3 linked regions of the Homo sapiens genome follow. The protein of the gene in region 1 purifies or fractionates together with the protein of each later gene. This does not show direct contact. Each region holds a gene or a part of one and is shown in the gene's direction. Other genes may lie near its edges. The genes, in order: C8orf74, MORN2 and FGFR2.

Region 1 (6,879 bases):
GATAATGTGACCATACCAATATACCTTCTTATATTTCCAGCATCCAAGCTCATGTCTTAGCAGGCGGTCAATGATGATGACAATGAAGATGATAAAAACCATACTGATGATGATAATGATGATAGAGAATAAAAAGGGAAAAATAATGGTCAAATCTTGCATGCAACCAAGAATAGTCAAAAACTCTATTGTAGAGGTGATTCTTGTAGCTTGAAGCAAGTGGTGAAGTAAACTCTGCTTTTGTACTAACTAGAAGCCTAAATGTCAGGCCCTACCTGGAAAACTCCTGAATCCTGCAGCAGTGTTGATAGCATGGCCAATTCTTAAGTTATGTGATTTTTGCACAAGATATTTAATGCATCTATGCTCAATTTCATCTTATATCAAATGGCAATGTTAATAATTATATCCATCTTATAGAACTGTTGCAAGGATTAAAAGACATAATGAATTTGAAGCTCTTGAAATAGAACTATCTACTAATGAAAAACACTCTTCACTGCTGTTTGGTAACTCTGTGAGGCTTTTATTTCATTTTTATTACCAAACAGGCCTTTAGGATAGGTAAACTGAGATCCAAATATTCATCCCACACACAATAAATGGGAAAAGACACCACAAATGCCATTAAGCTCAAGCCTGCCATGCCATGTGGCTTTTGCATGGCTCTCAGAAGAGATTTGAGAATGTCCATGTTTCTTTAGCAAGAGAACATTGGATGTGGCCAAAATGAGTCAAGAACATAGGTGGGCTCTGTCCGTAACCAGTTTTTGCCATCAATGTCACTTTGTGATTCTTTTGATTATTCACCAGTAAACTTGTACTGAGTCCCAGCCACCATCCAGGCCTGCAGTGGGCACCAGGGCTCCAGAGGTGACTAAGACATTGTCCATGCCCTCGCAGGACCAGCAGGCTAAAGGGGGAAGCCACCATTCAATCAATACACAAGGTGCAATGTCATAAGAGCCATGATAGAAATGAACACAGCCATGCAACACACAGTTGTGCCTACTATGTGCCAGGTATGTACAGTGGTAAATAACACATTCATAAATAAAACAAAATGCCCTCTTTGTCTTACAATCTAGGAGAAAGCAGCATTAGAACAATCATCTACATGAAATGAAAAAATTACAACCTGCAAAGTGCTACTGGGGGTGCATTTAATGCTACAAGAGCATGTGACAGGGACTCAGGAAAGGTTTCCTTGAGAAAGGGATGATTAACTTGAGACATGAAAAGCCAGAAAGAGTTATCTAGAAGAGCAGAGGAAGAAAGAGCATTCCAGGGAGAGAGGGCAGCAGGCAAAGTCCTGGAGGGAGTGTGGGTGAAGCCAAGGCCAGTGTGGGCCGGAGAAGAAAAGGTCACATGAGGCTGGACAGCCACATGAAGGCCTTGGGGCTTATGAATGAGCAGCCATGGAAGATTTGGATGCAAGAAATTGACATAGTCTAATTTCATATACGCATGTATTTGTGTGTGTAGAGAAAGGGGAGAAGGTGTAATATACATAAAATTCAGAGATCTTAAGTGAGACATATATATACACCAGTGTAACCACCTCCTGAAAAACGATGCTACACAACAGCACCCTAGCAAGTGCTCTTGACAATGCCAGTCCATAATTAGATTTATTTTTTTAGTTACCTCTGGCAACAGTGTGGAGAATGGATGGTGTAGGTGTGGGGGTTGGGGGGGGTGGCAAGAAATGGGAATGAACTCTACTTGGGGTAGCAATGGGATTCAGAGAAGAGAATGGGCTCAATAAATGTTTAGGAGGCAGAGTTCCCAGAGCTTCAAGGCAGCTGGAAAGGAGTGAGGGTGAGGAGTCAAGAATGAGGTCCAGTCCATCAGGTGTGGTGGCTCACGCCTGTAATCCAAGAGCTTCAGGAGGCCAAGGCAGGGGGATGGCTTGAGGCTAGGAGTTTGGGACCAGCCTGGGCAACATAGTGAGACCCCATCTCTACAAAAAAAATATTAAGAATAATTATCCAGGCGTGGTGGGTGTTCACCGGTAGTCCCAGACACTCGGGAGGCTGAGGCAGGAGGATCACTTGAGGCCAAGAGTTGGAGGCTGCAGTGAGCCATGATCATGCCACTGCATGGCTTGAGCAGTGGAGGGCACCTGATCAGCCAGGGTTGAAGAGGGATCTGGAGGGTTTTCCAGAAGAACTAATTTTCGTAGAGGCTGAGTTTGGTGGTGTCAGTTAAGAGTCGGCCAGGTGGGGGGATTTAGAAGTGCATTTAGGGAGGACCCTGAGAATGGATGAACAACAGGCAAGCAGAACCAGGGGTCAGGGAGGCGTTCCTGACAGCGCCGTGCCAGCACCTGGCCCCCGCCTACCTTAAGCAGACGTGAGATTTCTCAGTCATGTGAGACAGCACATTCGCATTTGGCCTAAGGTCAGGCTGAGTCTCTGACAATTGCAGCAAAAAGCGCTGTACTAATACTGACTCTGAGAAAATGGAGCAGGATAGGACACGGGATGAGAAGGGGCTCTAGCCTTGGGGTATGGAGACCCATCCCAGCTGCATCCTGGGGAGGTCCCGGGGCCACAGACTTGGGAAGGACTCGAGTGAGGGGCTCCACCTGAGGGCCAAGGCATGGTGTCAGCCTGGGGGACACCCCTAGCACTGCATTCAGGACAGCCCCTGCCAGAGGAGCCTGGACATGGAGACCCCCTTCTGACCCCGGATCAGGACTCCTGCCAGCGACACACCCCAAACACTCAGAAGCCCCCGAGGACCCCTGGACACCCCACAGGCGGCGCAGGTCCGCAGGTATCCGTTCTTTGGGGAGAGGTGTGGTGAGTCGCACACTCCAAGACAGAGAGGGGTGAACACCGCCACTGCGTAAATGTGTGAGTCATTTTCTGTGGATGGACATTGAAGTCACGTGGTTGGATAAAGTCATTGAAGACTAGGTGGCCAGGAAGGGCAGTGAGGGCCCTGAAATATCACCATCACGACGGGAGGAAGGTGGGCGGGTCCTTGACGCAGTCACGTGGCTGAAGGAGGATGACGGTTCAGGATGGCCAGAGCCTCTTCCAAGACAACCCCCTGGGGAAATGGGGTGACCTGGGGAGCCAGGGGTCCTGGGCAGCTGCCCACCAACCCTGGCGAGTAGGACCAGGCTTTCCTCACTGGGACTCTGGGCAGTGAGGCAGAGGAAGGAAGGACTTGCCTCCCAGGCAACCGGTGGGTGCCAGTGACTTCCAGGACAGAGAAGAGCAAGGCTGGCCCGGAGAAGGAGCGAACCCCTCCCAATCGCCGCCTTCAGGGGCTTGGGCACTGCACTTGGGGACACCCCTGAAGAACTGTTTGCTCTACCCCAAAGCAAAGTCATGACACCAGAAACAGAGCCATGGATGCTACTGGCCAGTGGAGGAGGTCGGGGAGGCCAGACCCTAATAGGAGGAGTCAGGGAGGACGTGGAGGCAGCAAGCCCGGGCAGTCCTTTCCGTGGAGACAAACACCCCGACCTGTCGGCAGGCAGGAGGCATGAGGCTACAGTCAGAAGAACATGAGGATGACGGGCAGCATGTGTGCATGCGTGTGCGCGCGCATGCATGTGTGTGTGCACGTGTGTGTACATGTGTGTGCCTCCGTGTGTGCATGTGTCTATGTGTGTGCAAGAGTGTGTGTGTGTGTGTGTGTGTGTGTGTGTGTGTGTTTATGGGAAGCCTCAGAATGCTCACTTCCTGAAGGAGAACAGGTTATGAGGGAGAGGCAAGGGGGGGTTCCTGTCCCTGAGCAGGTGCAGGTGACCAGGCCCAGCGCATCGCAGGAGGGGCCGGGAGGAGAGAAGCCTGGGAGAAGCCATTCGTGACCTAACAAAGCTGGCACTGGCCACCCCCAGGGTTCCGGAAACTCTGAGTCAGTCTGGCTCCGTCTCCTGGCAACCAGATGCAGGGGCCATGGCACTCTTAACACCCCAGGGAGTGAAAGAAGTCTTCCAACTTCAGGTGAAGGAAGAGAAAATGTGGCTTTTAAACAGAAACTGGCTCATCCTGGGCACATAGGGAGGTGGGCACTGGAAGCGCCTCTTCAGGAGACCCCGGGGCAGCCACCCCGGCTCAGCACAGCACCTCTGAGGCTGTGACGAGATGTGGGGCCCAAACTTCAGGCCAGGGCTTACCAGCCCCTGGACCTTGTGGGCTGTTTTTCAAGCCACATGCAGGCCCAGAAGGAGCAGATCCTGCCTGAAGGGAAGTGAGGGACTGTGCCTGCCTCCTCTGGGACCCTGAGGGTCCTGCGAGCCACTGTGTGCAGGGAGTGTGTTGGGGGAGGCTCTGCTGCTTTCTAGGGGGTGCTGTCTAGATTAGGCAGAAGAGTGGTGGCAGTGGAAGAGGAGTCTCTGGGGGCCGAGGACAGGACTCTAGGCCTCCCTCTGTCACTAAGGCCACCATTGGTCCTCCAGGGTCCCTTGGGGTCCTCCCAGCCAGAGGATCCCTTGCCTCAGGAAAGCAACACTCTTGCGTGTGGTGGGTGGGTCTCTGCTGCACCCCAAACATTTTTTTGCCACTTCCTTTAAGTGGCACTTGCTTCTCCTACATCTGCTGGGAGCCTATAAGAACTTTCCAGAAGGGCCAGCTGAACTCTCAAGTAAAATGGGTTTTTACTTCTAGGCAGGGAAAAAAGTTTACCTTTTCCTCTTGGCCTGCCCGTGTGTCTGAATTTTCACCAAGCAAGACTCATTCCTTCTGCTAAAGCATTACCTCACCAAGCCCCTTCTTGGTCAGTCACTTACACTGTAGTATAAATTTCATTGTCAGATCAATGCCTCTACTGCAGTCAGTTAAGAGTAGACTCAGGAAAGTCAAATTTTATTTTAGGCAGGGGGATAGGGATCGTATTTCAGAACCTGAGGCCTGCTGGAGGTACACAAAACCTGGGCTGCAGTGGCCAGCATGAGAACTCTCAGAGGAAAGAAAGTCCTAGAAGAAGAGCAAGTCCCAGGAGGAGGGAGTGCTGCCCAGAAACCAAAGCACAGCTCTTCCCAGGGGTACCCACATACCTAGTTACTCTTCAGGGCTCTGGAGCACCACTGTGGGGACCCCAAAAGTGTCTTACCCAGTAGAGATGGCTTCTCAACTCCTCAACCCCATATTATACCCTGCAACCCCCATATCACACTCTCCAGCCTCCATATCATACCCTGCAACCTCGATATCATACCCTGCAGCCCCATATCATACCCTCCGACCCCCATATCATATCCCACAACCCCCATATCATACCCCACAACCTTCACATCATACCCCGCAACCCCCATATCATACCCCACAACCTTCATATCATACCCCGCAACCCCCATATCATACCCCACAACCATCATGTCATACCCTGCAACCCCCATATCATACCCTGCAGCCCCCATATCACATCCCACAGACCACACATCACACCCTGCAGCCCCCATATCACAGCCTGCAGCCCCCATATCACACCCTGTAGCCCTCATATCATGCCCCACAACCCCATATCATACCCCACAACCCTCATATCATACCCTGCAGCCCCCATATCACACCCCGCAGCCCCCATATCACACCCTGTAGCCCCCATATCATATCCTGCAACCCCCATAGCACACCCTGTAGCCCCCATATCATGCCCTGCAACCCCCATATCACACCCCGCAGCCCCCATATCACACCCTGTAGCCCCCATATCATATCCTGCAACCCCCATAGCACACCCTGTAGCCCCCATATCATGCCCTGCAACCCCCATATCACACCATGCAGCCCCCATATCATGCCCTGCAACCCCCATATCACACCCCACAGCCCCCATATCACACCCTATAGCCCCCATATCACACCCCGTAGCCCCTATATCATGCCCTGCAACCCCCACATCATACCCTGCAGTTCCCATGTCATTCCCTGCAGAGACCACAAGGTCGGGAGCGCCTGCGGAGGCTTCTGAACTGGGAGGAGTTTGACGAACAGAGAGACTCCCGGAGGAGCATCCTGCTGGACACCCTCTACGAGAGCATCATCTTTGCAGTGGGCAAAGGCTTCCCATGGGTGGAGGTGGCCCAGGTGGTCAAGTTCACAGAAGAGCTGCTAAGGGAAACCAAAGGTATGGTGTGTCCAGGGCAGGAGTCAGCAGAGGCTGGCGGGATGGGGTGGGTACACATAGAACTCCCCTGCCGTCCACAGCCCCAGCAGCCTTGGAGGAGCCAGGGCCCCTTCCTGCCCTTCCCTGGCATTGGGCCTCCTCACATGCTTAAAAATAAGGTCTCTACTCAGCCTTCCCAAACATCCTCACTGAGTCTTCATTGGTCTGCCTGACTGCAAATCTGAACCACTCCAAGCTGTTTGCACAACAGCCAGGGTGTTTGCTTTTGTTTTGTTTTCGTTTGGTTTTGCTTAACATAAATCAAATGTGTCACCTTCCCTGACTTAAAACCCTTCATGGACCTGAAGGGCTGCACGTTGTTCCTGGTAGGAGATCTGGCTTTGCTGCAGGTGCCGGGGGAGTCCTGGAGCTTGCTCACGCAAAGATGGGGGATGCAGTCAGGTGGGTGCATGGAAGCAGCATTGCCCACTCCCTGGCCCTGTGCAGGGCTTGCATGAGAAAAGGACCTGGTGGCATGAGGAGCTGTGGTCACTCCACCCACCTCTTGGGCAATGAAGTGCAGATTCATTCATTAAGCAAATACATGGGGCAGGCTCTCTGGGGCTGCCCTCACAGTGATACTTCATTCCACTGAGAACCATCCATGGGTGCTGAAAGTGGTGGGCGGATGCTTGATGAGAAATGGGATACTTCCATGCTTTCTAAGAACCTCTCCCACAACATCCTTCGTAGTGACAAAGAGAAAGGAATACTCTTACAGGGAAGAAGCTGACAGCTGCCTCCTTAGTC
Region 2 (9,473 bases), on another chromosome or scaffold:
TGCCAGAGCATGAACCCCTAACTACTACACTCTATTTTGCCAACTCTTGAGGATGAATAGCAGTTAACCAGGTAAAGAAGAGAAGGGTGTTCCACCCAGAGTACGGCATGGCATCTGTGGGAAACTACAAGCAGATCTGGTAATCTAGTTAGTTATCATTAGTTAAACACTTAGAAAGTAGCTCTGACGCCTGTAGTTCCAGCTACTTGGGAGGCTGAGGCAGGAGAATGGCGTGAACCCGGGAGGCGGAGGTTGCAGTGAGACGAGATCAAGCCACTGCACTCCAGCCTGGGCGACAGAGCGAGACTCCGTCTCAAAAATAAATAAATAAATAAATAAATTAAATTAAATTAAATTAAATTAAAAAATAAAAAAGAAAGAAAGTAGCTCTGTGTCCCTGCTCTCTTGGAATTTCACATCTTGCAGACATGTAAATAACTAATTAATGAGCACACATGGCAATTTCTGTATACCACCATACTTCACCCTTTATCCACAACCAAATCTTAGAAATTATGGGGAAAAAATAAGCAAACATAACTAAATTCAGATTTTTCTAAGATTTAGTGTTAATTAGTGTCTATATTTAACCCCTAAACGAGATCAGAATTCTAGCAAGATTGCTCTCTATCCTCCACACCATTTCCATATTGATATTACCTGAGTTTTAGTTACAGATTCTTTTTTTTTCTTTTTGAGTTTTTAATTTTGGTGTAGATGGAATCTCACTATGTTGCCCAGGCTGGTCTCAAACTCCTGGGCTCAAGCAGTCCTCCCACCTCACCCACCCAAAGCGTTGGGATTACAGGCATGAGCCACCAGATTCTATTTTTAAAACTTAATTTTTTTTATTTTATTATTTTTTTAAGACAGAGTCTTGCTGTCTCACCCAGGCTGGAGGGCAGGGTGTGATCGGACTCACTGCAGCCTTCACTTCCTGGGCTCAAGCGATCCTCCCACCTCAGCCCCCAAGTAGCATGGACAACAAGCATGCAACACCACACCCAGCTAATTCTTGTATTTTTTGTGGAGAATGGGTTTCACCATGTTGCCCAGGCTGGTCTCGAACTCCTAGGCTCAAGCAACCCACCCTCCTCAGCCTCCCGAAGTGCTGGGATTCCAGGCATGAGCCAGTAATTCATCCTACCAGCGTGCCTGCCAGTTTCCATGATTTTAGATTGATAGTTTCGTTGGATGTAGAATATTAGGTTGAAAATAATTTTGTCTCGGAATTTTAAAGACATAGTGCCATTTTTTTTTAGAATCCACTGTTGCTAATGTCAGTCCTTTGTAGTTTATTGTAGGTAATCTGGTTTTTGTTTGCTTGTTTTTAACTAGCCTAGCTGGCCTTTGGTCTTTATGTCATGAAATTGTACTGTAACCTGTCTAGGTGTGGGATTTTGCTTAGTTCCCATTTGTAGTCCAAGCAGTCATTTTCTTCAGTTCTGAGAAAAATTTGGCTATTTATTCAAATATCCCTTATTCTTTCCCTCTGGAATTCTTATTAGACTGACAGTAGCCTTTTGGATCCACTTTCCATCATTTTAAAATTCTTTGTGCTACTTTCTTTTTTTTTAATTAAAAAATTTTTTTTCCAGCCATCTCACTCACACTTTGTGCTACTTTCTAAGCACATTTTTCAACCTAATGTTCCAGTTCACTAATTTGTTTTCAATTGTATCTATTCTGCTTTTCATCCCTTCTAAGAAGTTTTATTTCACCAATTATATTATTCATTTCCTGGATTGCTAATTGTTTTTTGTTTTTTGTAATCACCTGTTCCTATTTCAAGGATACTAATACTCTCCCTTTCTCTCTGAGGATGTTACAGTTTAAGTCCTCTACCTATTGTGTTAACTCTGTTTCCTCAGTGATGAGCCTCCAAGCCTTTCTCAAGTGGTACCTAAATTAATTTTTAAATTCCCTTGCCCCACCCGTAAAGACTGATTCAGTAGATGTGGGGTAGAGAGAAGAAACTTAGAAGCATCTCAGGTGATTCTGAAGGATGGGCCTGCATACCGTCTCTACATAAGTTTTCTTCAGTATCGGAAAATACAGTTTCTAGTTTTAGTCCAGTAAGTGTCCAGGGATCTGAGGCCCAGAGTCCCCCTCAGTCTTGCGGTCCTCTTTCTTCCTTTTTCACTTGGTCTCCATTCCAGTCTCATTCTGTGTGGACCTACCAGCCCTTCCCCACTTGCTATCTTTATTTTCCATTTCTTCCTATTGCCAATTTAAAGATTCCTCACTCCACCTTACCTCTGTGGGACAATCAGTAAATCATATGGGCTACCAAAGAGAAATAAAAACATATCCACACAAAAATCTGTACACCAATTTTTTTTTTACTCCTAGGAAGCTGTATGTTTTGAAAATGTACATCAGTGTTTATAGCAGTATTATTCATAATGGCCTCAAACTGGAAACAACCTACATGTCCATGAACTGATGAATGAATAAACAAAATATGCTGTTTCTGTACAACATATTTATACAATATACTTGGCTATAAAAAGGAATGAAGTACTGATACACGATGCAACATGGATGAGCCTTGGAAACATTAAGTGAAACGAGCCAGACATAAAGGACCACATATTATATGATTTCATTTATAAGAAATGTCCAGAATAGGCAAATCCCTGAGGCAGAAAGTAGATTAGTGGTTGCCAGGGGTTTGGGGTTGTGGGGTGAGGGGTGTTTGAGGGGAATCATAATGGGTAACTGCTAATGTGTACAGAGTTTCTTTCTGGGATGATTAAAATATTCTAAAATTAGATTGTGATGATAGTTGCACAACTCTGAATATACTAAAAAAATCAAATTGTATTTTTTTAAAGGGTAGATTTTGTGGTGTGTGAATTATATATTAATAAAGCTATCATAATAAATAAATTTTAAAAGAGATCATCTAGGCAAAATTGTTTATTTCCCCGGGACCCTACATTAGACAATGGAAATACCAAGTAATCATGATATGATGTGATCTTGAGAAGTAAGTCCATTTGGATAGTGCTGAAAGCACATTGGGTATAGGTCTTATGACATAAGAATGTTTACACTTGGTTGGGTGTGGTGGCTCACATTTGCATCCCCAGCACTTTGGGAGGCTGAGGCGGGAGGATCGCTTGAGCCCAGGAGTTTGAGACTGGCCTGGGCAATGTAGTGAAACCTTGCCTCTATCGAAAAAAAAGTAAACTTATGTCACTGTTTTTAAATCTTTTAAAACAGCTTCAGAAGTGTATAAGATCAGCTTTATCTTTCCAAATGGAGACAAGTATGGTAAGTATACGCTTCAATTACTTTTTCTGTATAGAAAATTAAATAGCTTAGGAATAAAAAACTGAGACTGTTAAATTTTATAAAACTACTATTAGGATATTAACTTTATTAACTAAAATAACAGAAATCCTAATAGATAAAGAGCTTTTAAAATCAAAATTCCAATGCCTTGGAAACCTATGGGATCTGTCAATCTTCCTGGCCCTTGAGTCTCAATTGTTACAAGATGTTCTGTGTCCATGGATTTTCTCATCTCTGGTCTCACTGGTTTCAGTGCTAGGGAGCCAAAGAAACCCATGAGGTGTAGTTGCGATTAGGCCCAGACATAACTATTCTCATTTATAATCTTCAGTTTTTCTCCTCTGTTTAGATGGTGACTGTACAAGAACATCTTCTGGAATCTACGAGAGAAATGGAATAGGTATTCATACCACTCCTAATGGGATTGTCTACACAGGAAGCTGGAAAGATGACAAGGTATTATTGTTGTTTTTAATATTGGCAGTGGATAAATAACCCTGTAGGTTTAGTGATTCCAGGCATTTCACCATTAATCAAAAACTCCTATAATGAGTAGACTATATAATAAAAATAACAAATGATCATATTAACATATATTAACTTATGAGTAATATTAAACTCACTGTAGAAAGCTAATCATCGTTACTTTCTTTCTCATCTCCTATTCATTGAGTAAAGCTGAATCCGTTACATAATTTTCTCATTTAATCCTCATAATAACCTCATGAGATAGGTACCATTAATACTCTATTTTACAAATGAGGAAAATCAGGCTCAGGTTTCTTGCCCAGCTAGTAAATGATAAAACAGGAAAGTATACCCTGGTCTGCTCAAATCCAAATTTGAATTCTTAACAACTACTTTGTACTGGTTTCCTGAACTAACTAAACTGGTTGCCCTTTAAGATTTCTGATACATTCAGGGTATCTTGAGGACCCCTATTTATCTTCATCATGGACCCCCTGATGTTCAAATGTCCCAGATCCAGAACATTTAATTTACTGGGCTTCACAGATAGATACAGATGAAGGAAAATGATAAAAATGTTGTCTTTATACTATGGAAATAAAGGACAATACAAAGTTGGTTAAGTAATAATTAGCAGATGATAGACTTATATTTGTACATTTTTTAAAGGTTCTTGGGAAACTGAAGATTAGTTTCTAAGGTAATTTCCTTTGTTACAAACAGATGAATGGTTTTGGAAGACTTGAGCATTTTTCAGGAGCAGTATATGAAGGACAATTTAAGGATAATATGTTTCATGGACTGGGGACTTACACATTCCCAAATGGGGCAAAGTATACTGGAAATTTCAATGAAAATAGGTAAGCTTAAAATAAAAAAAAATCACTGCATTTCTAAAAGATTATTTTCTGGTATGTTTGCTTAAATACTTATTTATTTATTTATTTATTGAGACAGAGTCTCCCTCTGTCATCCAGGCAGGAGTGCAGTGGAGTGATCTCGGCTCACTGCAACCTCTGCCTCCCGGGTTCAAGCGATTCTCTTGCCTCAGCCACCCAAGTAGCTGGGTCCACAGATGTGCACTACCACACCCAGCTATTTTTTGTATTTTCAGTAGGGACGGGGTTTCACCGTGTTGAGCAGGCTGGTCTAGAACTCCTGACCTCAAGTGATCTGCCTGCCTCGGCCTCTCAGAGTGCTGAGATTACAGGCGTGAGCCACTGTGCCCAGCTGCTTAAATACTATATTTAGTTAATTCTAAATATTCTTTTATGATATAGTTTCTAAAAATTGTTGGAGGCCAGGTGCGGTGGCACAGCACCTCAAACATCATTGATAGTGAAAAAATATTTGTTGAATAAGTGAAGTAATTAAGCTAGATAACCGATATAAACTTTTCATTTTTTTAACTCATTGTTTTGGTTTTGTGTGAACCTAGATTATGTGATCCTAAAATCTTGGACACCAAATAATTGTTTGTTTTTGTTTGGAATAGTATGTGGTTTTTTTTTTTTTTTTTTTGGTTTGTTTGTTTTTTTGGTAGGATATGAAAGCAGGATGCTGGGTTTAAAAGCAAAGCTTGAAAGTAGAGGATATAATCTTCAGACATAGTATATATTATGCTAGAAAATCTTATATCTGGACTGTAAATTATTCATCTTTGTTAATGGAAAACTTATTTTCTACTATTGCAGGGTGGAAGGTGAAGGGGAATATACTGATATCCAAGGACTAGAATGGAGTGGTAACTTTCATTTTACAGCTGCTCCAGACCTGAAATTAAAGCTTCACATGTAGATGTGATGTTAAATTAAAGTTGAAATGTAGTAATTGAAGCTTTTAGTTGTAAGGAAAGCAACTTAATCTGTTATTTGAAATGACTTCATACACTACCCCTATAAGTTTGCCAATAAAACCATCACCTGCTTACACCTTTTTGAACTTTATATTCATTGTCTTACAATTAGTTTAAAATAAATGACATGATTCAATTCAGTCTGCTTATTATAATAACTATGGCAGAAGCATCCAAATCTTGGCAAAGTTGATTTCCAATCCTCTGTTTGAGTTTTGTCATTTTTTTTTTTTTTTTCTAGTTTGTGCTTGTGTGTCCTGGTCAACATCCGACCTCTTTAAAAAAAAAACAACTTTTTTTTTTAGGCTGTAATACATTTTATTCATTTCTTATTATTTTCTAACTTTTATTTTAGGTTCAGGCGTACATGTGCAGGTTTGTTATACAGGTAAACTCATGTCACAGTGTTTGTTATACAGATTATTTTGTCCCCTAGGTACTAAGCATAGTACCAATAGTTATTTTTTCTGATCCTCTCCCTCCTCCCAGCCACCATCCTCAGGTAGCCCCAGTGTCTGTTGTTCCTTTCTTTGTGTCCACAAGTTCTCATCATTTAGCTCCCACTTATAAGTGAGAACATTCGGTATTTGGTTTTCTGTTCCCGTTCTGTTAGTTTGCTAAGGATAATGAACACAATTTTAAGTGTACAATACATTATTGTTGACTATAGGTACAATGTTGTACAGCAGATCTCTAGAGCTTATTCATCTTGCTTGACTGAAACTTTATGGCCTTTTATTAGTTACCTCTTATTTTCCCATCACCCCAGCCCCTGGTAACCATATTCTACTCTTTGATTCTATGAATTTGACTATTTTATTTTTCTTATTTTTTATTTTTTTGAGATGGGGTTTCACTCTTTTTGCCCAGGCTGGAGTGCAACAGTGCAATCTTGGCTCACTGCAACCTCTGCCTCCCGGGTTCAAGCTATTCTCCTGCCTCAGCCTCCCGAGTAGCTGGGATTACAGGCACTTGCCACCATGCCCAGCTAATTTTTGTATTTTTAGTAGAGATGGGGTTTCACCATGTTTACCAGGCTGGTCTCGAACTTCTGATCCACCCGCCCTCGGCCTCCCAAAGTCCTGGGATTACAGGTGTGAGCCACCCCACCCGGCCACATTTGACTATTTTAAATACCTCATACTTAAAAGTGGAATCATATAGTACTGGTCTTTCTGTGACTGGCTTATTTAGAATAATGTCCTCAGGGTTCATCCATGTTGTCACAAATCACAGGATTTCTCTTTTAAGGCTGAGTAGTATTCCATTATATGTGTAAACCACATTTTCTTTATTCATTGTGGTGGACTGCTACTATATGAGTCAGCAATCCTACTTCTGGGTGTTTATCCAAAAGAATTGAAGCCGGGTGCAGTGGCTCATGCCTGTAATCCCAGTATTTTGGGAGGCCAGGCAGGCCAGGCGTTCAAGACCAGCCTGGCCAACATGGTGAAACCCCATCTCAACTGAAAATACCAAAAAATTAGCCAGGGGTGGTGGACGTTTAGTTTGTTTCCACATCTTGACTATTGTAAATAGTGCTGCAGTGAGCATAGGAGTACTAATATTTATTTGAGATCTTGATAGCAATTCTTTTTTTTTTTTTTTTTTTTTTTTTTTTGAGATAGAGGAGTCTCACTCTGTTGCCCGGGCTGGAGTGCAGTGGTGTGATCTCGGCTCACTGCAACCTCTGCTTTATGGGTTCAAGCAATTCTTGTGCCCTGGCTACCCAAGTAGCCAGGATTACAGGTGTGGTCCACCATCCCTGGCTAATTTTTTGGTATTTTCAGTAGAGACAGGGTTTCACCATATTGGCCAGGCTGGTCTTGAACTCCTGGCCTGCCTGGCCTCCCAAAATGCTGGGATTACAGGCATGAGCCACTGCACCCGGCTTCAGTTCTTTTGGATAAACACCCAGAAGTAGGATTGCTGACTCATATAGTAGTTTTTTGTTCTTGTTATTTATTTATTTATTATTATTATTATTTTAATGTGGACCACTTCACAAATCTGCATGTCATCTTTGCACAGGGGCCATGCTCATCTTCTCTGTATCATTCCAATTTTAGTGTGTGTTCTGCCAAAGCAAGTACAGTAGTTATATTTTTAATCTCTTGAGGAACTTCCATAGGATTTACCATAGCAGCTGCACCATTTTGCATTCCCAGCAACAGTGGGCAAGTGTATGGTAACCCAGTTCTTCCCACTTTCTTTCTGTGCCCTTACTGAAAATCACAGAGTACCTTGACTGCTCTGTGACCCAGCTGGCTATATGTTTTTCTCAGCAGGCTTGAACCCAAACTGGGCCTTGAACATTCCCAAGCACTGAGAAAGGTATTTCGGTTGTTGCTCAAAACACTGAAACTGGCCCCCAGCCCTGAGCCAAATTTCTCAAACTGTCATAGAAACTCCAGACTCTGATCCCCTTGCTGCAGACATACCTGGGTAGAACATTCCTTTTCTCTCTCAGCAATTGCTGCAGCCCTCTGTAAGGAAGTTTCCCTAATAAATTCTTTGGACTGATCACCCTAGAGCTTAGAGTTTTTTCTTTGGTATTCCAGCCAGCCCTATCTCAGGACAGTTGGAGACTCCCTTGTGGGAAGTCCCCCTGCCACTGCTTTTGGGGTGATTCCAGCCGAGGATTTGAGGGTTTAGAGAGACAAAACAGCAAGGGTTCAATTTCTCCACCTCCTTAGCATTTGTTTTTTGTTTTTGATGATAGCCATCCTGTCTGGTATAAGGTGGTATCTCATTGTGGTTTTCATTTCTATTTCTCTGATGATTAGTGACATCGAGCATTTTTCCAAATACCTATTGACCATTTATATGTCTTCTTTGAAAAAACGTCTGTTCAGTTCCTAATCCATTTTTAAATCAGGTTATTAATTTTTTTTACCATTGAGTTGTAAGAATTCCTCATATATTTTACAGATTAAATCCTGATCTGATATATGATTTGCAGATATTTTCATCCATTCTGTAGGTTGTTACCTTTTCACTCTGTTGATTGTTTCCTTTGCTGTGCAGAAGATTTTGGTTTGATGTGGTTCCACTTGTTTATTTTTTGTTTTGTTGCCTGTGCTTTTGGTGTCATTATCCATGAACTCATTGCCAAGATCAATGTCATGAAGATTTTCCCCTGTTTCCAACAACACATGGAAAGGGTCATATACCATGACCAAGTGAGATTTATCCCTGGGATGCAAGGATAGTTCAACATACGAAAATCAACTAATGTGATATTCTACATTAACAGAATAGAGGACTAAAATCACATAATCAGCTCAACAGATGCAGAAAAAGCATTTAACAAAATTGAGAACCTGTTCATTATTTAAAAAAAAACCTCTTAACAAATTAGGAACAGAAAGAAATTACCTAAACATAACAGAGGTCATATATAAAAAGCCCACAGCTAACATCATACTCAACAGTGAAAAACTGAAAAGCTTTTACTCTAAGACTGGGAACAAGGCAAGGATGCTAACTCTTGTCACTTCTATCTTTAAAAAAGTATACATTAAAGGAGACTATCAAGAAAATGGAAATACCATCCTCACAATGGGATAATATACTTGCAAATCATATCTGATTGTCAGAAATTTGCTTAATATAGTCACTGCCTCAGCATCCATTTTTAGGCCTGACATAAGTTGTCTGACATCCAGTCATATCCCATTACTCTTGGCCTAGTTAAAACTTTCCTTCCCCTTGTAGTTGTTTGCAATACAGCCCACTTGTTCCTTACCCTGCTGACCCAAAACCCAACACATCCCACAGGTGCTGACCATGATAAAACCTAAAGGTCAAAATAAGTCATGCAAAAATAAGTTCCCCCTTTCCACATGTT
Region 3 (10,852 bases), on another chromosome or scaffold:
GTTGCAGCTGGTCCTTCGGGGTGTTAATGTGGGAGATCTTCACTTTAGGGGGCTCGCCCTACCCAGGGATTCCCGTGGAGGAACTTTTTAAGCTGCTGAAGGAAGGACACAGAATGGATAAGCCAGCCAACTGCACCAACGAACTGTAAGGGCTGTTGTCTTTCCTGCCGGTGCCCCAGTGGACTTGCCACACCAGTAATACCTCTCCTGATGTATCTCGTTTTTGAAGGCCCCTGGTTTCCTAAACATGCTCTAAGAAGAATGGCTGAAGCTCTCTGGGCTCAATCCAGAGCTGGGATACATAGCGACACCGACAACCATTACTTGTCTGAGAGAAAGAACATTATTCTGAGTATGGAGAGGGCTTTGGATCAGAGGGTGTCTGGCTGCCTGGCTGAGGGCTCCTGACTTTGCAGAGCCAGCAGGAGTGGTCTTCCTGGGCCACTGTGCTGCACCTTCTGCGGTCTCCCGTGGAGTGACAGGAAGACCCACGGGTCAGGAAACAAGCTAGAAAGCCGCGGGGCCGCCCTGCAGGGTGTAGGATTAAGGAACCAACACAGCCTTTCCCTGGTGGTTGTGCCTGGCCCCCGCCTGGCCCCATCGTGGCCAGTAGAGAATCGGTGTTTCCAGAACTTCTCGAACCATTGAAAATTGCCATTACAGATTGACGCCAACCACATTTCCTCAGAGCGAAGGAACTCGTGTTTGGTTACCTAGGTCTCACTTGTGTTTTAGTGCAGAGAATTAAACATGTGTCCAGGCGCCCTCCTTACTGTACCAGATCTGCCTGTAAAACCATGAACTGGTTTGTAGCAAAACCTGCCTCACACTTTAAGTGGAGTTATGTTGTGTTTGTGACGTGTGCCTGGTGCAATAGAATCAGTGCTTTGAAAGGAGTCTCTCTGCCTCCTGCCTCAACCCCTCCAGGATTAACTAAGAAGAGTGATTGTCCCAGAAACTGCGGTCTATTGTGTATCATTTCATGGGGATTTTATATCAGTAATCCCGTGAGTGCTTTTCGGTGTACCGTGGATGTCTGATGAATGGCCACATTTTATAGCATATTATATAAAGGCATTTATTGTGCTCTTTGTCATTCCTATTGTTTTTTTTCTTTTGTAACGTAGAGGATCTGTCGAAACCCAAAATCAAGATAAGACCTGGGAAGCTAAGCCTATCTAAGAGTTAATCAGGAAGTTAGTGTGCAGCCCAGTGGTGGCAGATTAATTCATCAAAAACTTGAAGTTGTAGTTTTCAAATTTTATTTAATTTTTTTTTAACTCAGGAAGCTGTGTCAACTAGAATCATTAAGACCCAAAGCACCGGGCAGATAAATAGTGGAGCTGCTTTGGTGCTGGGCAGGGTGTCAGGGGAGGGAAGACTGGAGACCAGCCCATGGAAATACGCATTTTCCTTCAGCCTCCAAAGCATCTTTAGGGTGTGACGCCATTGTGAGATGTCACTGTGGCCCAGGGTTACCAGGGAAAACACATAGCTGTGTCTTTCTTGATGGCTTCGATGCCTTTCTAACATGTTTTTGTAAGTCAAAGTGCCTTTCGGAGGAACTGGCAGGGAAGCTTTTGGGAAAGTGATTCATGACCCCCTAATCTAGTTGCTTGGAAGGTTCTGATGCATTTTCCTAATTTACACCACGTCCCCATATTGCCTATTAAAACTGACTATAACCACGTACCCAGTGCATATGAAATTAATTCAAGGAAATCCATTTTTCCCAGGTACATGATGATGAGGGACTGTTGGCATGCAGTGCCCTCCCAGAGACCAACGTTCAAGCAGTTGGTAGAAGACTTGGATCGAATTCTCACTCTCACAACCAATGAGGTAAGAACTTCCTTCTAGAAGCCCCTTGTCCTTGGTTGTCTTGTGAGACATGCGTAGTGTTTTACACACACACTCCCCTGTTGGCTGTTGGTTGGAGTCTGTGGTCTTGTTTATTCTTTTTCCATAGGGTCAGATAGTTCAACTATGGGTTCCTCTCAAATCATGATTTTTCTCAGAACTTCATTTTGTGAGTTCTGACTCATGAAACCAAAGACAGAGGGACATCCCCGAGGCTGCCTTCAGTGTAGCTGCTGGTGGAGCAGTCCGGGGTATGTGGGAGAGTGGGAAAGGGGAAGCAGTATTCACTTGCATTTTGGTGTGCATGGGAAAAAGCTTGGATTCCTGTGCAAGTTTGATTCTGTGCTTTGGTCATTAGTGGGTAAACTGATAATGTTCGTCATCATTTGCTTGATGGAATACAATGAAGTTTTCTAACACCAGCTTCTGTTACCACAGTACTATCCTATGTGATCCTGTTGGTAATGCTATATGCCTTGCAGCCTCTTTCTAGGTGTATATAAACATACACTGTTTTCTACAATGAGCAACTTACATGATTTTTACATAAAAACATGTACCTTTTGTTAAAATATTTATTTTCCCTAAAATATTTATGCTCTCGCCTGTAATCCCAGCATTTTGGGAAGCCGAGGAGGGCAGATCACCTGAGGCCAGGAGTTCGAGAGCAGCCTGGCCAACATGGCGAAACCCTGTCTCTACTAAAAATACAAAAATTAGTTGGATGTGGTGGTATGTGCCTGTAATCCCAGCTACTTAGGAGGCGAGGTAGGGGAATCGCTTGAACCCAGGAGGTGAAGTTTGCAGTGACTGAGATTGCGCCACTGCACTCCAGTCTGGGAGACAGAGCAAGACTTCATCTCAAAAAGAAAATAATAATAATTTATGATCCTTGCCAACAAAATAAACACTCGTCTGTCACTCACTGTGCAAATTTAGCCATGTCAGTGGCTCCTTCAATATGCAGATAGAGTGCCTTTTATAATTATGGAAAGCATATGCTCTGAGCAGGAAAGATGATAAACCCATCAAGTCTAGTCAAATCTTAAGATAGAGAAATTGTTAATGAATGTATTTTGAGATATTTAATGAGGATGCACAATAGTGTTCTTTTACACAGGAAACTAACTCCAAACCATGCAATTGTCTCAACAAGAAAAAAGTTAAAGTCCCCCAAGTATTTTAGAAGGAAAATAATACACTTAATTTCTGATTTAGGAAATAGTTTTAGAGTGATTTTTTAAAAAGTAATAATCAAATGTAGTGATATGAAGTCTTAGCTCAGCAGCTTTATCTTATGCGTCTGACTGTGGCCTGTGCTGGATAAAGGAAGAGATTGCACTTAAATGAATACAGCTGACCTTCAGAAGTTGAAAGGAAAGGAACGGTTCAAGGGGGGGAAGAAACCAACTTTCTTCTTCTGCCAAAATTGTTGTTTCTAGTATAAGTTCCTTTAACTGTAGACTTGGAATCTACTGATATCCCTGTTTTTTTCCTATCAGATCTGAAAGTTTATGGCTTCATTGAGAAACTGGGAAAAGTTGGTCAGGCGCAGTGGCTCATGCCTGTAATCCCAGCACTTTGGGAGGCCGAGGCAGGCGGATCATGAGGTCAGGAGTTCCAGACCAGCCTGGCCAACATGGTGAAACCCTGTCTCTACTAAAGATACAAAAAATTAGCCGGGCGTGTTGGTGTGCACCTGTAATCCCAGCTACTCCGGGAGGCTGAGGCAGGAGAGTCACTTGAACCGGGGAGGCGGAGGTTGCAGTGAGCCGAGATCATGCCATTGCATTCCAGCCTTGGCGACAGAGCGAGACTCCGTCTCAAAAAAAAAAAAAATAAAAATAAAAAAGAAAGAAACCGGGAAAAGCACTAAAGTTCTATTTTAATGATCTCATGTCTATGCTCAAAGTGATTTATTTATATATTTACATGTAGAGTGGGTCCGTTGATACTGAAATTTGTATCTAGTACCCTAAAATAAAAAAGCAGAATGCCATATTGTCTGGTGGATATAAAAATCGAAGTTTCTTTCCTTCTGAAAATCATTACCATATGCTCAAGAAAAACGGTTCCATTTAGGACAAAATTTCGTTTTTATCATTGTAAGCAAAAAGTTCTCTTTTGATGTGGTGGGCGTGTTTGTTTCCAGTTGTGTGGTTAATGCTGATGTTGTTGGAACTGATACATTCCCCTTCTGGGATGCTGGGATGGGGACTCTTTCTCTTGCCAACCCTGGTGATGAATTAGAGGGTTTTGTGTGTGTGTGTGTGTGTGTGTGTGTGTGTGTCTTTAAAAATGTCTAGTTGCCAACATTCCATGGGCTCTTTTCTGATAACACTGAGGCTGTTTGTGCTGTGGTCTGCACTTTTTGCCCCCTCTCAGCAAAACCACATGTCATAGAATAGTTGTTGGCTTCTGGATGTGTGAGCAGAACTGCCCCACTGTGCCAGCCCAGTGGAGGCAGAGAGACCCACAAGTTCCCAATTTAGAAAGCTTTTCATAGCTTCAGAACAGGGGTCGGCAACTGCTTTCTGTAAAGGGCCAGGGAGTAAATATTTTCAGCTTTGCCGGCCCTGTGGTCTCTGTTGCAACTTCGCCACTGTAGCCTCAAAGTAGCCACAGACAATATGTAAATAGATGTGTTCTAGTCTGTCTTCTAGTAAAATTTTATGGATCCTGAAATTGGAATTTTATATAATTGTATATAAATTTTATTCATTTTAATCCTATAAGATATTCTTCTTCTTTTGATTTTTTTTTTCAACCGCTTACCAATGTTAAAGACCATCTTTAGCCCTCAGGCCATACAAAGTCGTCTGTGGGCACCCAAGTCGGAGGAAGTGTCACCCTGGGGTGATCCAGAGGGCTTTTTGCAGCACCAGCACTGGATGCCTTGGGGAGCAAAGGACACTTTCTGAATCTCGAACCTTCAAAACTTTGAAACTTAACCGATATTTTCCTGAAGTTTCCTTTAACAGTGCATTATGGATTTAACATACATGAGTATGTCTAAGCCTTTTTTGAACCTGTTTACATTTTCAACTCGGAGAGCTTCTGAGAGTAATCAGTTACATCTGTTAAATTACCCACTGAATGAAGAAGTATTCCCCTTCAATTATCCCCGAAACTACAATAGTAAAATGTAATTCAGAAAATAAATATTCATAGTCTCAACTACTTAAAGGGGGTCTGGGGACCCACAACATGTTACCGGTTTTCATTTTGCTGGGGCTCGCATTTGAAGCAAGGGCTCTAGTGAGGAGGTGGTGTAGACTCAGCGGGTTATTTAGGTCCGTGTGAAGCCGAGTTGCCTGCCCAGCACCTATAGCTCAACTAGGTTTTATTGTTCTCTACCTGTCAATAGTTGATTTATGATGGATTCCAAGAGAAAAGCTAAGGACAGCCTGGGGTACATCAGACGTGGTCTCAGGGAGGTCTTCGTGGAAGTCAGGTGGGCTGGGTCTCTGTTCACCTTCTAGGGGTCTCCTGTCCTGTCCCACGTCCAATACCCACATCTCAAGAGTTTGTGTTTGAAATAAAACTCTTCTCTTCCCTTCTTTCAGGAATACTTGGACCTCAGTCAGCCTCTCGAACCGTATTCACCTTGTTATCCTGACCCAAGATGAAATAAAACGTCTCTCTTCCCTTCTTTCAGGAATACTTGGACCTCAGCCAACCTCTCGAACAGTATTCACCTAGTTACCCTGACACAAGAAGTTCTTGTTCTTCAGGAGATGATTCTGTTTTTTCTCCAGACCCCATGCCTTACGAACCATGCCTTCCTCAGTATCCACACATAAACGGCAGTGTTAAAACATGAATGACTGTGTCTGCCTGTCCCCAAACAGGACAGCACTGGGAACCTAGCTACACTGAGCAGGGAGACCATGCCTCCCAGAGCTTGTTGTCTCCACTTGTATATATGGATCAGAGGAGTAAATAATTGGAAAAGTAATCAGCATATGTGTAAAGATTTATACAGTTGAAAACTTGTAATCTTCCCCAGGAGGAGAAGAAGGTTTCTGGAGCAGTGGACTGCCACAAGCCACCATGTAACCCCTCTCACCTGCCGTGCGTACTGGCTGTGGACCAGTAGGACTCAAGGTGGACGTGCGTTCTGCCTTCCTTGTTAATTTTGTAATAATTGGAGAAGATTTATGTCAGCACACACTTACAGAGCACAAATGCAGTATATAGGTGCTGGATGTATGTAAATATATTCAAATTATGTATAAATATATATTATATATTTACAAGGAGTTATTTTTTGTATTGATTTTAAATGGATGTCCCAATGCACCTAGAAAATTGGTCTCTCTTTTTTTAATAGCTATTTGCTAAATGCTGTTCTTACACATAATTTCTTAATTTTCACCGAGCAGAGGTGGAAAAATACTTTTGCTTTCAGGGAAAATGGTATAACGTTAATTTATTAATAAATTGGTAATATACAAAACAATTAATCATTTATAGTTTTTTTTGTAATTTAAGTGGCATTTCTATGCAGGCAGCACAGCAGACTAGTTAATCTATTGCTTGGACTTAACTAGTTATCAGATCCTTTGAAAAGAGAATATTTACAATATATGACTAATTTGGGGAAAATGAAGTTTTGATTTATTTGTGTTTAAATGCTGCTGTCAGACGATTGTTCTTAGACCTCCTAAATGCCCCATATTAAAAGAACTCATTCATAGGAAGGTGTTTCATTTTGGTGTGCAACCCTGTCATTACGTCAACGCAACGTCTAACTGGACTTCCCAAGATAAATGGTACCAGCGTCCTCTTAAAAGATGCCTTAATCCATTCCTTGAGGACAGACCTTAGTTGAAATGATAGCAGAATGTGCTTCTCTCTGGCAGCTGGCCTTCTGCTTCTGAGTTGCACATTAATCAGATTAGCCTGTATTCTCTTCAGTGAATTTTGATAATGGCTTCCAGACTCTTTGGCGTTGGAGACGCCTGTTAGGATCTTCAAGTCCCATCATAGAAAATTGAAACACAGAGTTGTTCTGCTGATAGTTTTGGGGATACGTCCATCTTTTTAAGGGATTGCTTTCATCTAATTCTGGCAGGACCTCACCAAAAGATCCAGCCTCATACCTACATCAGACAAAATATCGCCGTTGTTCCTTCTGTACTAAAGTATTGTGTTTTGCTTTGGAAACACCCACTCACTTTGCAATAGCCGTGCAAGATGAATGCAGATTACACTGATCTTATGTGTTACAAAATTGGAGAAAGTATTTAATAAAACCTGTTAATTTTTATACTGACAATAAAAATGTTTCTACAGATATTAATGTTAACAAGACAAAATAAATGTCACGCAACTTATTTTTTTAATACTCGTGTCTTACCAAATGGTTTCCTGTGCTTGGAGGTGCTGACTGAGTGCTGTTGTGAATGCAGGAAGGGCAGGGCTGCCAAGGGTCTTATGTGCTACACACGGGGGTGACTTGCCAGAGGGGTTGACTGAGACCAGCAGTACCTGTGACAGGTTGAGGTTGATCCAGTGGAAAATCTGAATCAGTTGGTTGGAGCCCTGGCTCGGTTGCTTACTGGCACCTCAATGGAATCATCGTTCCTTTCTGAGCCCTACCAGTTCCCCAGAGGAGCAAACAAAGAGCCACATGGTAGAGAGCTTTGCAAACTGGAAGGTGACCTAAGGATGACAGGTATTGAGTAGGGAAGACGTTCAGAACATCTGAATCCTGGGGACTTAAAAACCTTTTAGGCTGTTTTCTTCATGATGTATGGAGAGAAGGATTTGCTTCAAATTTTCCAAAAGAAAACTTGGACAAATGTTCGAATAATTATTTATTTTCATACCACCAACGATCTGAAGAGGGAAATGGAGTTTTGCCTGTCAGTTAACAAATGTGAATCTGTGACTCTTAAGGGTCTGTTGTATCTACTTGCCAGCCTCATCAGCAGCAGGAAAGGGAATTGAACATAGGCCAACTTCTCCTGCACTTCAGCCAGGCTCTTAGAACCTTACAGGGCCATTGGTAAAGAGTGCTGTCTTTGGGGTCTTCTTTCTGTTTGAGGCCATTCATGGTGGAGCAAGGTGTCACCAGCCATCAGGGGAGTGGCCTAGGGTCCTGGTTCTGTATTTCCCAAACCTCTGTCCTTCTGTTTCTTACAGGATAACAGGGCTCTTGGGAATGTGATTTTAAAAATAAGGTGCATGAAAGCCACCTAAGAAAATTGTCACCTGTTAGACACAAGTGTACAGGGTGATGTTCTGTACCCCTGGGGACATTTCTACCGTGAGATGTCCTTGGCAAGGGTGAGGATGGACTTGCTGGGGTCTACGCTGGTTCCTCCGTGCAGCTCTCTGGTGCATATGCTGTACTTTAGACACTGAAGGGCAGTTTATAGCCTTGACAGTGTAGATTATAATGGCAGTAAGAACTGCTGTATTTCTGGCCCATTTCATGGAGATGGGTGGGCAAGAATCCTAAATGGTCTTTTGGCCATTTTGATTTTAGAATTATTTTGAAAGAGACACTTGTCATGAAGGGCAAGAAGGCAGTGTGGTCCATGAGAATGATAGGTAATACAGTACCTTTTTTTTTTTGAGACCTGTCCCAAATGAGCATACACAGGTAGGATTCGATAAGAATCCTGGAGCTTATGGCTCTCCTCCCCCAAGAACCTAAGGAGAGCGTTGGAAATTAGTTGCAACTACATGTGATGGTCACCTAACCATCATGAGATGAGTTCATTTGTGAAGAACCAAAAGATTGCAGGCATCTTGGATGTGTAGTGCCCGGCCTGCTGTTCCTAACTGGGAAAGGCATATCCAAGAGGCTGCCTCAAAACGTCTAGCTGATGGTAGCCTCTGGCAGGATGGGGAGCCAGAGAAAGCGGGTGGAAAAGTAGCATCTTCACGGGGGTTCTGTGCATTCCCAGGGGACAGGGTACCCTGCATCCACCACACAGCCTCTCCATCCCTCCTCAGGGAGCTTCTCTGCATCTGATCTTGTGGGGAGTTCCTTAACCCCACACATAGGAACATAGGAAATTAAAACATGCATTTATAGTAAAACGTCTGAACAACTTGAGCTGCTATGAACTGAGGACTCCACCTCCAGTTTTGAAAACAAGAAATGGGGCTGCTACCTTATACTGCATCACTGAAGATTGCTTGCAGGGCTGGGTCCAGAGGGCTCAGCTAGGACAGAAGAGGAAGCTGAGGCTCCGCTTGAGGTCCCTGAGGGTCACATGGCTGGGATGTGGTCTAAGGAACAAGACTGCAGCCTTGTTCAGTGCAGGAGAAAGACAGTGGACTTGTGGGCTTGGACAGAATTGATTGGTTTGTTTCTTACAGCTGGGTGATGGTGCGCAAATCCCAGCTTCTGTCTGGATGTTTGTCTCTAGGTGAACCTGGTCCTCACCAGCCTCTCGACTTGCCATGAGGATTTGCTGTAGGGCTTAGCTGTGGCAGACAGGACTCAATAAGTGTTCGTTTTCTACTTCCTGAGAATTTTTTTCTACATTTCAGTGATTTTAGTATATCCACGTTGTGTAACCATCACCACTATCTAATTCCAAAACGTTTTCATCACTCCATAAAGCCAACAAATTCCCATTGTTAGCCACTTGCATTTCCCCCTCCCCCAGTCCTTGGCAACCCCCAATCTGCTCTCTGTCTATGGATTTGCCTACTCTAGACATTTCATGTAAATGGAATCATATGCTATGTGACCTTTTTTGTCCAACTTCTTCACTTAATGTTTTCAAGATTTGTTCATACGGTAGCCTGTAACAGCACTTCATTTTTATTGCCAAATCCTATTCCATGATATAAATTTACTACATTTTGTTTATCCATTTGTCCATTGATGGACATTTAGATTGTACTTTCCAGTTATGAATAGTGCTGTTATGAACATTCATGTACTGGGTTTTTGTGTGGTCAGGTTTTCATTTCTCTTGGGCATATATGTAGGAGTGGAATTGCGGGATCATATGGTAACTGCTAGACTGTTTTCCAAGGTGGCTGCACTATTTTACATTCCCACCAGCAGTGCATGAGCATTCCAGTTTTTCCACATCCTTGTCAACACTTGTTATTATCCATATTTTTTATTATAGCCATCCTAGTGGATATGAAGTATCTTCATAAGAATTTCGTAGCTGAGGAGATAGGATGCAGATCATTGAATAAAGATACATAATGCTTTCCTGGTTTTTCCAGAAAAAGATACTTCAATTAATCAGCTTGGTTTCTACACTGATGAAATGGCCAAGGTAGCTAAGATGCCTCAGTGGATCTTCATGAAATGGAGAAGCTGAGAAACCAATCAATTCCCTGTCTTCCCTCTTGGCTGAGAGAGGAAGGAAGCACTGCTAAGTGGTGCAAGGATGCAGGATCTTTCTGGCTGGAATGCTTGAGTGTATCTGTCCTCACATCCCCAGTTTTATACCAAGTAAAGTCACGCAAGCTTGAGCAGTCCATGCGGACTAATGAATGCACCATTACTTATGTATGTGGGTCCATTAGGTTCCTCCTTACCAAGCCTGCATTTTGATGTTATTTATTTTTTCATGGTTTTAAAGATGAAAGCAAAGTTTATCTTCTCTCACATTTCATCCCCAGGAGCCTTGAAATGACTTGGCTGTCGACCCTGGGCAGGGACAGCAGAAGCCGTCCATGTCTCAAGTGACATTCTGGAGTAGGGCCCTTCTTGTGCCCTTTTTTTATGCCGGGTGTCTGGGATTTTTGAATGGGCTCCTCCAAATTGCCTTGAAGTCCTGTTTCAGAAGGTCACATGAGGTGCTGTAGAAGTCAGTGGATGGGAGGGCATTCAATGTCCGGCACTGGGGAACCATCCGCTCCGGACCTTTGAAATACAATTTACAAAGGGATACCTCAGCACATGAAGCTGTTCAGTGACTGAATTCAGCTTACCGTGCACATATGGGTAGGTGATTTTTTCCTTCTGCAGCTCAGAACACTGCCTCCTTTTGGGCTGCACTCC

The links.
Region 2: the proteins of C8orf74 (region 1) and MORN2 purify together in Homo sapiens (affinity purification with mass spectrometry; 3 studies listed by BioGRID and IntAct, with this or other methods). This does not show direct contact.
Region 3: the proteins of C8orf74 (region 1) and FGFR2 purify together in Homo sapiens (affinity purification with mass spectrometry; 3 studies listed by BioGRID and IntAct, with this or other methods). This does not show direct contact.

What each region holds. Positions count from the first base shown.
Region 1 is NC_000008.11:10,668,749-10,675,627, forward strand, and holds the start of C8orf74 (uncharacterized protein C8orf74), read left to right. Parts: upstream 1-3,879; 5' UTR 3,880-3,917; coding exon 3,918-3,965; intron 3,966-4,910; coding exon of another isoform or gene 4,911-4,952; intron 4,953-5,834; coding exon of another isoform or gene 5,835-5,897; coding exon 5,898-6,090; intron 6,091-6,879.
Region 2 is NC_000002.12:38,876,951-38,886,423, forward strand, and holds the end of MORN2 (MORN repeat-containing protein 2), read left to right. Parts: intron 1-3,228; coding exon 3,229-3,279; intron 3,280-3,649; coding exon 3,650-3,756; intron 3,757-4,491; coding exon 4,492-4,628; intron 4,629-5,462; coding exon 5,463-5,565; 3' UTR 5,566-5,759; downstream 5,760-9,473. UniProt on the Homo sapiens protein: Might have a role in spermatogenesis.
Region 3 is NC_000010.11:121,474,688-121,485,539, reverse strand, and holds the end of FGFR2 (fibroblast growth factor receptor 2 isoform 1 precursor), read left to right. Parts: intron 1-7; coding exon 8-145; intron 146-1,736; coding exon 1,737-1,842; intron 1,843-3,362; coding exon of another isoform or gene 3,363-3,368; exon of another isoform or gene 3,369-3,716; intron 3,717-5,426; coding exon of another isoform or gene 5,427-5,489; exon of another isoform or gene 5,490-5,518; coding exon 5,519-5,683; 3' UTR 5,684-5,869; coding exon of another isoform or gene 5,870-5,959; 3' UTR 5,960-7,208; downstream 7,209-10,852. UniProt on the Homo sapiens protein: Tyrosine-protein kinase that acts as a cell-surface receptor for fibroblast growth factors and plays an essential role in the regulation of cell proliferation, differentiation, migration and apoptosis, and in the regulation of embryonic development.